Homo sapiens: one gene and its partners. The protein of the gene in region 1 interacts with the protein of each later gene in a biochemical or structural test. Each region holds a gene or a part of one and is shown in the gene's direction. Other genes may lie near its edges.

Region 1 (3,654 bases):
CTGGAGTACAGTGGTGCCAGCTCGGCTCACTGCATCCTGTGCCTCCCAGGCTCAAGCAACCCTCCCACCTCAGCCTCCCAAGTAGCTGGGACTACAGGCACACGCTACCATGCTTGGCTGATTTTTTGTATTTTTGTATTTTTGTATTTCACCATGTTGCCCAAACTGGTCTCCAACTCCTTCAAACAATCTGCCTGCCTCAGCCTCCCAAAGTGCTGGGATTACAGGCGTGAGCCACCACTCCTGGCCAAATAGCTAATCTTTTATGCTAGCTCTGGCTCTCTTCTCAGAAGTGTTGCTGCAGAGTGAGGAAAATGAAGCTTTGCTTCATTTGCATACAGTGTTACTATTTACAATGTGCTTCCTCATCCTTTATTTCATTACTCTCTTGCAGCTACACTGTGAGGCAGTCAGGAAAGATTGTGGAGAAACTGATGGAAAACCCGAGACTGATGTATTCAGTGGCTTACCTATGTCTATCATACTGAGAGTCAATGGCAGTCCTACTAAGAGAGTTTCTGATTCTTCTGTTAGTACTGTGGTTTGTGAAGGAGCACAGGGCAATAACTTTCAGGGATGTATCTAGTCTTATTAGCCTCCTAATGCAGTGTCCCTTTCCATGCCAGCCTGTAATTCCATACTTGGTGACGGACTGGGTTGTAGGTACACTCTGATGGAGTCTGGGCTCAGAGTAGGAAAGGACTATTTTGATGACCCCAAATCACTTGTGATGATCTCAGGTCAGGGAGAGACAGAGGTAAGGTGCAGGAAGCATGGTGGAAAATGGCAGAGAACCTCCTTTGTGGAAAAAAAACCAGAAGCGGTTTGCATCAGGGATGGTGTGGCATACATGCTCAGAGATATCTTGTGGCACAAGTGGAGATATCTGGGGAGTGGGGGAATTTGAAAAAGTAGTGATTAGTGGGGGAAGAGGGTATGCAGTGTGAAAGTCTAGTTCATAGTTGTCATGGGAGACCCTTTGGACCAGGAAATGATCAAGTTGGGGAAATCATCAATTCCTGCTGGTTCCTATGATTTCCCTGAATATGGGGAATTCAACTGCCTGATTTATGGACACTTGTATAGTACCCCCCGACAGTCAAGTGGCAAAGAAAGAGAAAATTTTTTAATACTATTGCTGGATGCGGTGTCTTGCACCTGTAGTCCCAGCTACTCAGGAGGCTTAGGTAAGAGGAATCCCTAGAGCCCAGGAATTCCAGGCTGCAGTGTACCATGATTGGGCAACATAGTGTGACCCCACCTCCAAAAAATAAAATACGATTGATTATCCTAAATAATAAGGGATAGTTTATGATGTTTCCCTATATTGTGGTGTTTCGAGTGAGATCATGGTAACAAGTAAAAGATACATGACCCATAAAGGAATAGGGCCCATGACATTGGCATTATTGATTCCTTTGGTTAACATGTTACGCTACCTCATTGACTCAGAAGTACTGTCTGGATGGAATGGGGATTCTCTTCTAATCAGATGTGTCTGATGATATGTAGGCTCATGCTAACATATTTTCCCTTTTCTTGGCTCGTTTATGGTAGATGTTTCTATCTGGCATAGTGAAGCAAGTGGGGCTAGTTACTGCCCTGGAACAAAACAGAGTGGGGTAGGGGAGTAACCTGGAGGAGAAAGAAGCTTTACTCCCATCCACTTGATGTGCTCTGATATTGCTATATAATTTTACACTCTCCAGACCCAAGTCTCTATTTGCAGAGTGGGGCCTAGGCATAACTGCCCCATCTCTATTATCACAGATGATGAGACAATGAATTAGGCAAACTCTAATAGTGTTTGCCATCCTTAGCCTAGGACAGTGGCAGGGCATGCTCATCAAGTTGTTTTAGTCTGTATTCCATTCCTAGTCTGACCTTATTTCTAGAAGCACACAGAGAGGCAGTTGAGACTTCAAGAGGATCTGGATAAACTCAGATAGAGGTTGTCTTGTGGCTGGAAGTAAATTTGGCTGTGATTTTGAATTCTTATTGGGTGCAGAGGTGGTATTATGTGAACAATGAGAGTTCCTGTGAAATCTTTTGAGCTGTGTTACAGACCAGTGCCTGGCACTCACAAAGGGACCTTCGTGGGGTGTGCATCTTTGGAGCTTAGTCCAGCCTGGTTACCTACATGAATCCCCTCCTCATTTCTGCCTCTAGAATCACCAAAGATGTCCACTACCTCAGTTTCCCACCTGCTGCCCTATCCCAGAAAGTAGAGGGCATTTTGAGGCATGGATTAGAAATCCATCAGAGAGATACAAAGAAGGTTGGAGGGAGGTGGAGCAAGAAGGGTGGGTGGTATGGCTGGTAACCCTTGGCTGAGCTTTGAGTCGATACTACTTTTGGCCCTGCTGGGTTTTCATAATACACCTGGTACCCCATTGAGAGCCACATGTATGCTTGCTGAAGTTAAAAAAGGTCAAGCCTATTAGAGGATTTTCCCTCTCCAAAACTTCACACAAAGAAAATAATTCAACTCCATTGTCCCTTAAAAAAATTAAAATGATTTCCCCCCTTGCCTTCCCCAACCCCCTCCCCAGGAATTTCTTTAAAGAAAAAAGAGAGACTCAGACTTGAGATTGGAGGTTATGGATGATTATCTGGAGGGAACATCATGGCTTTTATAGTTAGACTTCTTTAGAACTAAGGGAAAAAAGATGCTGACCCATCTGAGAAAAGTTAATGAAGAACAGCAGGGATTATGGGAAGGGCTGCTCTCACTGCCTGCCCCTCTACCCCTCAAGCACCAAGGGGCAGACTTAACTCAGTGCTCCCAGAGTAATTCTGTTCTTGGTAGAGACCTAGAATCAAAGAATCTCAGAGTAAAGAGAGCCTTTTAGAAGTCACCTAGTCTAATCTTAACCATTTCATGAGCCTCCTGTGCAGTGTCCCTGAGCTTGTTCTACAGTAGTCACAGGGGAGCTCATTCCCTTCTAAGCCTATCCATTCTGTTGCTGGAAAGTTTTGACTGTGGACAGCTTTTCCTTTGTTAAGCTGCAATCGTTTTCCTTTTAGCGATCATCCATGGGTCCTAGCTGTATCCTCTGGATAGCATCACACAGAACAAGGGTGCTTCCTCTGTCTTGGGACAGCCCTTGGGATATCTGAAGGCAAATATTATATCATCTTGTTTCACTTTTCTAGCAGAGCCCTAGCTCTTTCAGCTGTTCCTTATGGGATGTAGATTCCAGCCTCTCCTCCTGTTTCCTCCTCCCACTCATGATGCACTTCAGCTTGTCCATGTTCCTCTTAAGTTATGGATCCCACAGCTGAATACTGTAACTGAGGAGAATCTGACCACAGTTGAGTATGAACATTCTTTAAAAAAATACAGCTGAAGATCACTTTGGCTCTTTCTGGCGGCCATGTCATACCAAGGCCCTGTGTCAAAATCTTTTAATGGAAGTAGCTGTGCTGCTATTAAGCCATACCTGCCTAAGGCCTCTATGAAGGCATCTGGGACAGCCACATAATAGATTTGGGAGGGACACATTTCATCTCCTACTATTTATTTAGAATTGCCTCTGCCCCTAGCCCTGGCCAGCCTTGGTAAATGCATCGTAGGGGAGATGAGAGAGAAGATATAAGCCCTGACTTCAAGGAACATGTATGTTTAAACAAAGAGATTATTAAGTTACAGAG
Region 2 (3,654 bases), on another chromosome or scaffold:
TATATTGGATGACTTTTGGCCTCCTATATTTGTGTGACAAAACTAAGCTGTCACGTCTGCGAGGGTCACCGAGAATTTGACTGGCATCCTGGGGATTCTTATCTTTAGCCCTATGACATAGCATCAGGTTACTTTGCATTTTTAGTTTCTGTTTTTCATTGGTATTGACTTTTCCATTCCTAACCCCCCTTCTACGATAATTATGTCTGCCACTTTCTGATTATTAAGCTGCTATAGATTTGGGGAAATGGGTAATTTTATCTGCCATAAGACTAATTAGATTCTGAGTCAGGACCTGGTAGTTTTCCTTTGAGTTAAAGTTATTACCTGTAGTTGGGCTTTATGACATTTGTTTTGATTGGCTGTATTCTGAATAGTACAGCTTGCTGGAAAATTAACAAATATATTAGGATTACCTTCTCTACATCATAAGGCTATTGTGAGACTCAAATGATATAGTAGCCATAAAACACGCTTCAAAAGAATTCAAAAGTAAAGAGGATAAGGGATGACTTTCTTCATATTCACTACCATTAGTATTAATAAATATTTTTTGTTGCCACCAATGAAATTCGGGCAGAGTCAATGCCATAAATTCCCTATAAGTGAATATATTTTAGTCATAAGAAAAACAGACATTACTGAAGAGATTCTTAGATAATAGCAACCATTTGCCTAGAGAGATCCAGGAACACCTTGGGTCCCTAATGGTTCCTGGCCCATCAGGAATGAAATAGATACAGATGCTGGTGATGATGATGATGATGATGATGATGATGATGATGACAATGGAGATGAGGATAATTATAATTATTGTTAATCTATATTGAATGCTTACTATTTTCAGGGCACTGATTCAAGAATTTTATACAAATTAACTCTTTTAATCCTCAAAACAACCCTATCCTACCTCATGCTATTATCATTTTTATTTTACAGATGAGGACACAGGCACAGAGGGGATAAGAAACTTGTTTAAGACCAGATAAATAAAATAAAATTGAGTTTTGACCTGCCGTAAAAATAAACATTTGTCAGGTTTCATGTATTCTGAGCACTAGAATGCACTTAAAATTGCTAGTTTCTTTATGAAATCATAATTTTCTGGCAAAATTCTCATACATTTTCCTCCTTCGTAAACTACATTCTTCATGGTAGTCAAGGGCCTTAAACGATAGGCACTATATTTTATTATTTTAGAGCCACTCTACCTAACAATGTTTTGAATGCAAAAGGTACAATACATATTGACAGAATGTATAAAGAACACTTTTATACCCAAGCTCCCCTAAGAGTATTGTGAAATATCTTTATAACAATTGATCATCTTGGTTTCTACTAATTCAATTTGGACATATGTTTTACAGAATCTATATAACTTGTGTTTCAGTATGTAACTGAATTATTACGTCAAAAAGATATGCTCTATAAAAGTACAGGAAGCATTTAAAACATATATTGACCACTTTGGTATGAATATAATTTTAATAATATCATAAAATTGTTATAACTTTGGACAATATATCCACCTACAGAGGCCCACAGTATTACTATATTAATATTGTAAATCTGGAAACCATCATAGGCTTCAATATAAATGGAACTGATGTACTTACAAGATTTATTACTTCTCAGAATGACACGCTGGGGGGAATTTGACGATCTCTATCGTATTAGTGAGCTGGACAGGACCCAGATTCCTATGTCTGAAAAAAGGAATTCCCAGGAAGGTCAGTATCAAAATCTTATTGATTGGGAGACTTAATTTTTAATTAGTGTAAAGTATGACTCCATATGTTTCTCTGAAATCTAACCTTTTTCATACTACTACACAATAAACTCTTGTTTTATATGTATATATATTTTTAAATATCTTAGGAGCATAGTAACTTAAGTCACTATAGTGCTTGTATGATGTTTAAGAACCTTACTTTGGTATATAAAAATATAATTCTTAAAAAAATTATATTATGTCACTTAGATTTATTAGAATAGGGAGAGCTAATAGTTTTAATAAAGTTTGTATTCATAAAATTGTTAAATATCTTCCCCAAAGATTAGAGTCATTTATTATTCCCAATAGCTTTATATGTTAGGCCAAGCCCATCAGACCTAATTCTGTATCTTTTTAGAAGTTGAACGTTTTAGTTAGTTAATAGATATGTCAATAACATTACTTCTCAGAAAGACACAGATATGCTGGAGTCAATTTTATATTTGATAGAGTTATTTCAGAGATCTTTTTAAAAGAGAAATATACTTAAGGATCAAATGGATCCATACTGAACTTGGCAAACCAATGGGAAATGCCAGCTCCAGGGATGTGTGACATTAGTAGTTATAATCATAATGGTGATGATGTGAGAGTAATAATAGTGATATTGATAGCTGTAATCTGATGAGACTCTGGTAAGTATCAGGCATAATATTTTGTACTTTATATGAATTTTTTCATGTAATTCTCATAAACACATAAGATTCAAAGAGTAGTGGATGCTGATGACTGAAGCTAGAATGAGGGGTGGTGGACAGGGTTCATGTGCCTGAAATGGGGCTGTGATTTACGAAGTCAGTTCAGTGTGAACAAAGGTATCCCACTAGCATTAACTTCATAAGCCTACCAGCAACTTGCAATGTTTGTTCTCTTTTTTTTTTTTTCAAATCATTCTCAATTCTGCCTCGTCTGCTATTCCACAGGAACCCAGATCCTGTGACAAACATGATGTTCCTTCCAGGGTTCCCTTTTCTCTTTATGCCATGGGATCTTTACATCTTGTTAAATATCGGCCCTTCCAATTATCTTTTAGAAATATATATGAAACCCAAGGAAATCCCAGTATCTTGGCATCAAAGACATCATAAAAATATATTTGTATTTAAACAGCAGTGCTAGAGAAGGAAGAAATATCTCATGCCTATTTGATAATGTTCTAATTACAGTAGAAAATTTTTTAAAATCCTAAAGTAAAATAAAACACAAATGCCACCACATGGTCTTATTCTTACATATGAATATGCATAGGAGAGGAAATTGAAAAAGGTACTATCAATTGTATACAAGCAGAAAGGGGGGCAGAAGGCAGGTTTGAATCTTCTGCATCTTAGGCTAGTAACACATTGTAGCTCAATTCAATTCCATTTAAACACCTTCTGCCTACTCAATAGATACTAGAGTTGTTCAACGCTACACTATAATTTTATACTCTAAAATCTGCTATAGAAATTGTAATAATTCAGTAACCAAATTTTGACTAATCAATTATGAATCATTGTTAAATATACATGACTCAATGAGAAGAAATAATAGGATAGTGGACAACTAAGTGAAAAAGTCATTCATATCATACATCTGGAATGTTCTAAAAAGAACATAATGTGATATATTACAAATAGTAGGACTAGTCCAAAGCATACTATTCCTTTTGCTTTTATAAAAGATGGGAACAAAATCTTTCAATGCTCCACATACCATATAAATAGCTTCTCAAAGAGCTTTCTGTAGTTTTATAGGAAAACTAAGGCCCAGTGTTTATTTTTTAGGAAAAGCTCCAAAGAACTTGGGCCAACATATAATGGGGTGGGGGGAGGGGGGAGGGATAGCATTAGGAGATATACCTAATGCTAAATGACGAGTTAATGGGTGCAGCACACCAG
Region 3 (3,654 bases), on another chromosome or scaffold:
ACTCTCACCCAGGCTGGAGTGCAGTGGCGCCATCTCCGCTCACTGCAAGCTCCGCCTCCCGGATTCACACCATTCTCCTGCCTCAGCCTCCCGAGTAGCTGGGACTACAGGCGCTCGCCACCACGCCCGGCTAATTTTTTGTGTTTTTAGTAGAGACAGGGTTTCACCATGTCAGCCAGGATGGTCTCAATCTGACCTTGTGATCCGCCCGCCTCGGCCTCCCAAAGTGCTGGGATTACAGGCGTGAGCCACCGTGCCCGGCAGCCTTGGCTAACTTTTAAAAAAATGTTTTTAGTAGAGATGGGGTCTCGCCATATTGGCTAGCCTAGTCTTAACTCCTGGGCTTCCACCTCAACCTCCCAAAGTGCTGGGATTACAGGCATGGGCCACTGCACCCGGCCCTTAGTTAATTTCTGGACCAAGGAATTGGAATCTGGGGTCTTTCAGGAAACGACTGGGGATTCAGCAACCTGCCAAATTGAGCCTTGGAGCAGCCTCTGAGATGTTAGCTGTGGAGGAGGAGGCCCCTGCTTCCTGGGGCCCATCATCCATTCCCAAAAGTGCTGAGCATTGCAGGCTCTTCAAGAGCTGCGGTCAACACCAGCTCCAGGCCTCGGGCTGGAAGCCTCTTCAGCAAGTGCCGCAGGGAGGCCCTGGGTGGGTGAGCCGGGAGGTAGAATTGCGTAACAGCTCTCTATCCATTGCTGCGGTCATTAGCCATGGAGAGGGTGACGGGGGCTGTAACGGGGCAAGCCTCCCGGGTTCCAGCTGCCATCCTCGCCCCTCTGGGCTCTTTCCTCCCTGGCTCTGCTGCAGCCGGAGCGGTTGCAGGGCACACATTACTCGGTGCAGTCGGACATCTGGAGCATGGGCCTGTCCCTGGTGGAGCTGGCCGTCGGAAGGTACCCCATCCCCCCGCCCGACGCCAAAGAGCTGGAGGCCATCTTTGGCCGGCCCGTGGTCGACGGGGAAGAAGGAGAGCCTCACAGCATCTCGCCTCGGCCGAGGCCCCCCGGGCGCCCCGTCAGCGGTACGGCCTGAATCTGCAACTTCCGGTCTGGACGCGCAGTGCCCTGCGCGGGGCCTGCTGTGCCAGGGTCAGCAGCTGCCTCCCCTCTGCCCCTGGCGCACCACCTGTCCCCCTGGATGGTGCCGACTGTGGTCAGCAGTCCTCCCATGGTCCTGGGGTTTCCGGGGACAGAGCTGGAAGCAGTGAGCACCCCAAACCTGTTCTGTCCGGGGCAGCTGCACCTGTTGTTGCCAGCTGGAGGGATCTGGGAGCGCAGCTTTGCCACCAAGCCCCTGGGCAGTTGGATTTTCCAACATTTTATCCCGAAAGCATTCAAACGCACAGAAAAGTGGAAGGAATTGGCCGCCACAGAGCCTGCATTCTGCAGGTGACACGCTCCTGTGCTGCGGGCCAAGCCTTCCAGGGAGTCCTGAAGTGGAGATTGGACTTGGCATGGCCCTCAGTGGCCTGTTGGCTCCGGCCCCAACACACACAGGAGGGGACACAGCCCGGGAGGGGGCGGGAGGGCTCAGGCCCCAGGGACAGCTGGGCTCGCAGAGGACAATCCGGCACTTAGGGCGGGCACCTCGGGAGCGGGAGCTCCCTGACGCCAGTCAGAGAGGGCCGAGCGGACACTTCCACCGCCTGAGGGAAGAGCCGGGGGCGGACCCTGCTTGGTGCAGAATCACAGGAGGGTCCTGTGATTTTTTTTAAAGTCAGACATCAGGGAGAGTTGGTGGCGTCAGACCCCAAAGGACCCTGTAGCGGACTGTGGTTGGTTTTAAAACCATGTTTCCGAACTACAAAGCACACACCCCACAACTCATTTCAGGTGAGCAGTTCAGTGGTTTTCAGTCACAGTGCTGCGCCCCATCACCTCTAATTCCAGAACCTTCTCAGCTCCCCAAGAGGAAACCCTGTCCCCATCAGCTGTCACTCTCCATCCCCTTCCTGCCTCTGGACTGGCCTGTCCTGGGCATTTCACAGAAATGGGGTCACACACTTGTGTGGCCTTCTGTGTTTTGTGTGTGGCTTCTCTCCTGGAGCGCAGTGTCCTCAAGGGTCATCCACGCCATGGTGCGTGTCAGAGCCTGGGTCCTTTTGAAAGGCTGAGTAGTATTTTATGACACGAACAGGCCACGTTTTGTGGTCCTACCCGGATGGATTGGGGCTGTGAGAAGGAGATTTTCATAGCACTGGCAAGCCCACCTCCTCCTCTCCAGCCAGACTGCTGGGATGTCTTGATCTCATCCCAGGGAGAGGCCCCCAAGTCCTTATCCTCAGGCCTAGCCTCAGCCTCTCCCAGTCCCAACTCTCAGGTGGTATACCATCCCCAGCCCAGGGCCCCAGCCCACCTGCCCATTTCAGGACGGGCAGAAGGCGAAAGTCCAGCTGCCAAGCCCAGGCCTGGCCAGCTGGTTCTCAGACAGGGGTCAGCCACCCCTAGCCAGTCTCCCGTCCTGAGTGGCACTTGGGGCCTGCCCCCATCACCGCCAGCAGCTCCATGCAAGGTCACGCGGCTGTCCTTGCCTGCGGTCAGCACCGTCCCTCCCCCTGCCCTCCAGAGAGGAGGGGTGATGACTTTGGCACGTCCGGCAAGCCTCACCGAGCCAAATGTGTGACTTCTCAAAAAATGTTCTTGTTCCTTTTGCCTTTTTTTTAATTCACTAGAGGCTCAGGCAAGGAGTAGCTGTCCCAGGGAATGGAACCCAGAGTCAGGCAGGGGAGCTTTGTCCAGTGCCTCTGCACACCCGCCTCCAATTTAGGCTGGCATGTGGAGGAGGGCGCCTGGTGGTGATCAGCCCCCTGGGAGCCCAACCCCCAGCAGAAGTGAGGTGGCCATCGGCCCATCTCACCTCCATCTCTCTCCCTGTGCAGGTCACGGGATGGATAGCCGGCCTGCCATGGCCATCTTTGAACTCCTGGACTATATTGTGAACGAGGTTTGTGCTTGATGCCTTTTGGCTTTTCTTTTCCTTTTCTTTCTTCTTTCTTTTTTTTTTTTTTTTTTTTTTTAGGCAGAGTCTCTCTCTGACCAGAGCAAGAGTCACCAAGGCTGGAGTACAGTGGTGCCTTCTCGGCTCACTGAAACCTCCACTTTCCAAGCTCATGTGATTCTCGTGCCTCAGCCTCCCGAGTAGCTGGGATTACAGGTGCGCACCACCACACCCAGCTAATTTTTTTTTTTTTTTTTGAGACATTGTCTAGCTTTGTAGTGCAGTGGCTTGATCTCAGCTCACTGCAACCTCCGCCTCCCAGGTTCAAGCAATTCTTGAACCAATTCCACGTGTGTCGCGTCTCCCATCTTCTACTGTGCTGCACAAGCCCAGCTCCTTCCCAAGGGCATTGTTTTTTTATGAAGACGAACCCAGAATTCCCACCGCAGCCTCTCACCCTGAGTCCAGAGGGAGGTGTGTGCCAGCAGCCCTGGGCTCAGGCCGAGGAGCCAGCCTGCCCCTTGAGCAGTGGCCCAGTGTCTCTGCATCAGAGCGTCCTGGCGCCCGTGGGCGTGGACTCATAAATCACCCCGCTTCCACGGAGAAAGGTACAGGAATGGCCCTTGCCTCTTGGAAGGAGGCCCAGAGAGCCTAGAAGGACCTGTAGGTCCCGGGGTGGCTCCTGCTCCGTCAGTCCCCATAACAACC

The links.
Region 2: the proteins of SHROOM4 (region 1) and RASSF6 interact in a test that uses a peptide from one of them, tested with the Homo sapiens proteins (one large-scale study listed by IntAct).
Region 3: the proteins of SHROOM4 (region 1) and MAP2K2 interact in a test that uses a peptide from one of them, tested with the Homo sapiens proteins (one large-scale study listed by IntAct).

What each region holds. Positions count from the first base shown.
Region 1 is NC_000023.11:50,807,625-50,811,278, reverse strand, and holds part of SHROOM4 (protein Shroom4), read left to right. Parts: intron 1-3,654. UniProt on the Homo sapiens protein: Probable regulator of cytoskeletal architecture that plays an important role in development. May regulate cellular and cytoskeletal architecture by modulating the spatial distribution of myosin II.
Region 2 is NC_000004.12:73,585,916-73,589,569, reverse strand, and holds part of RASSF6 (ras association domain-containing protein 6), read left to right. Parts: intron 1-1,635; coding exon 1,636-1,730; intron 1,731-3,654.
Region 3 is NC_000019.10:4,096,577-4,100,230, reverse strand, and holds part of MAP2K2 (dual specificity mitogen-activated protein kinase kinase 2), read left to right. Parts: intron 1-816; coding exon 817-1,030; intron 1,031-2,887; coding exon 2,888-2,952; intron 2,953-3,654. UniProt on the Homo sapiens protein: Catalyzes the concomitant phosphorylation of a threonine and a tyrosine residue in a Thr-Glu-Tyr sequence located in MAP kinases. Activates the ERK1 and ERK2 MAP kinases.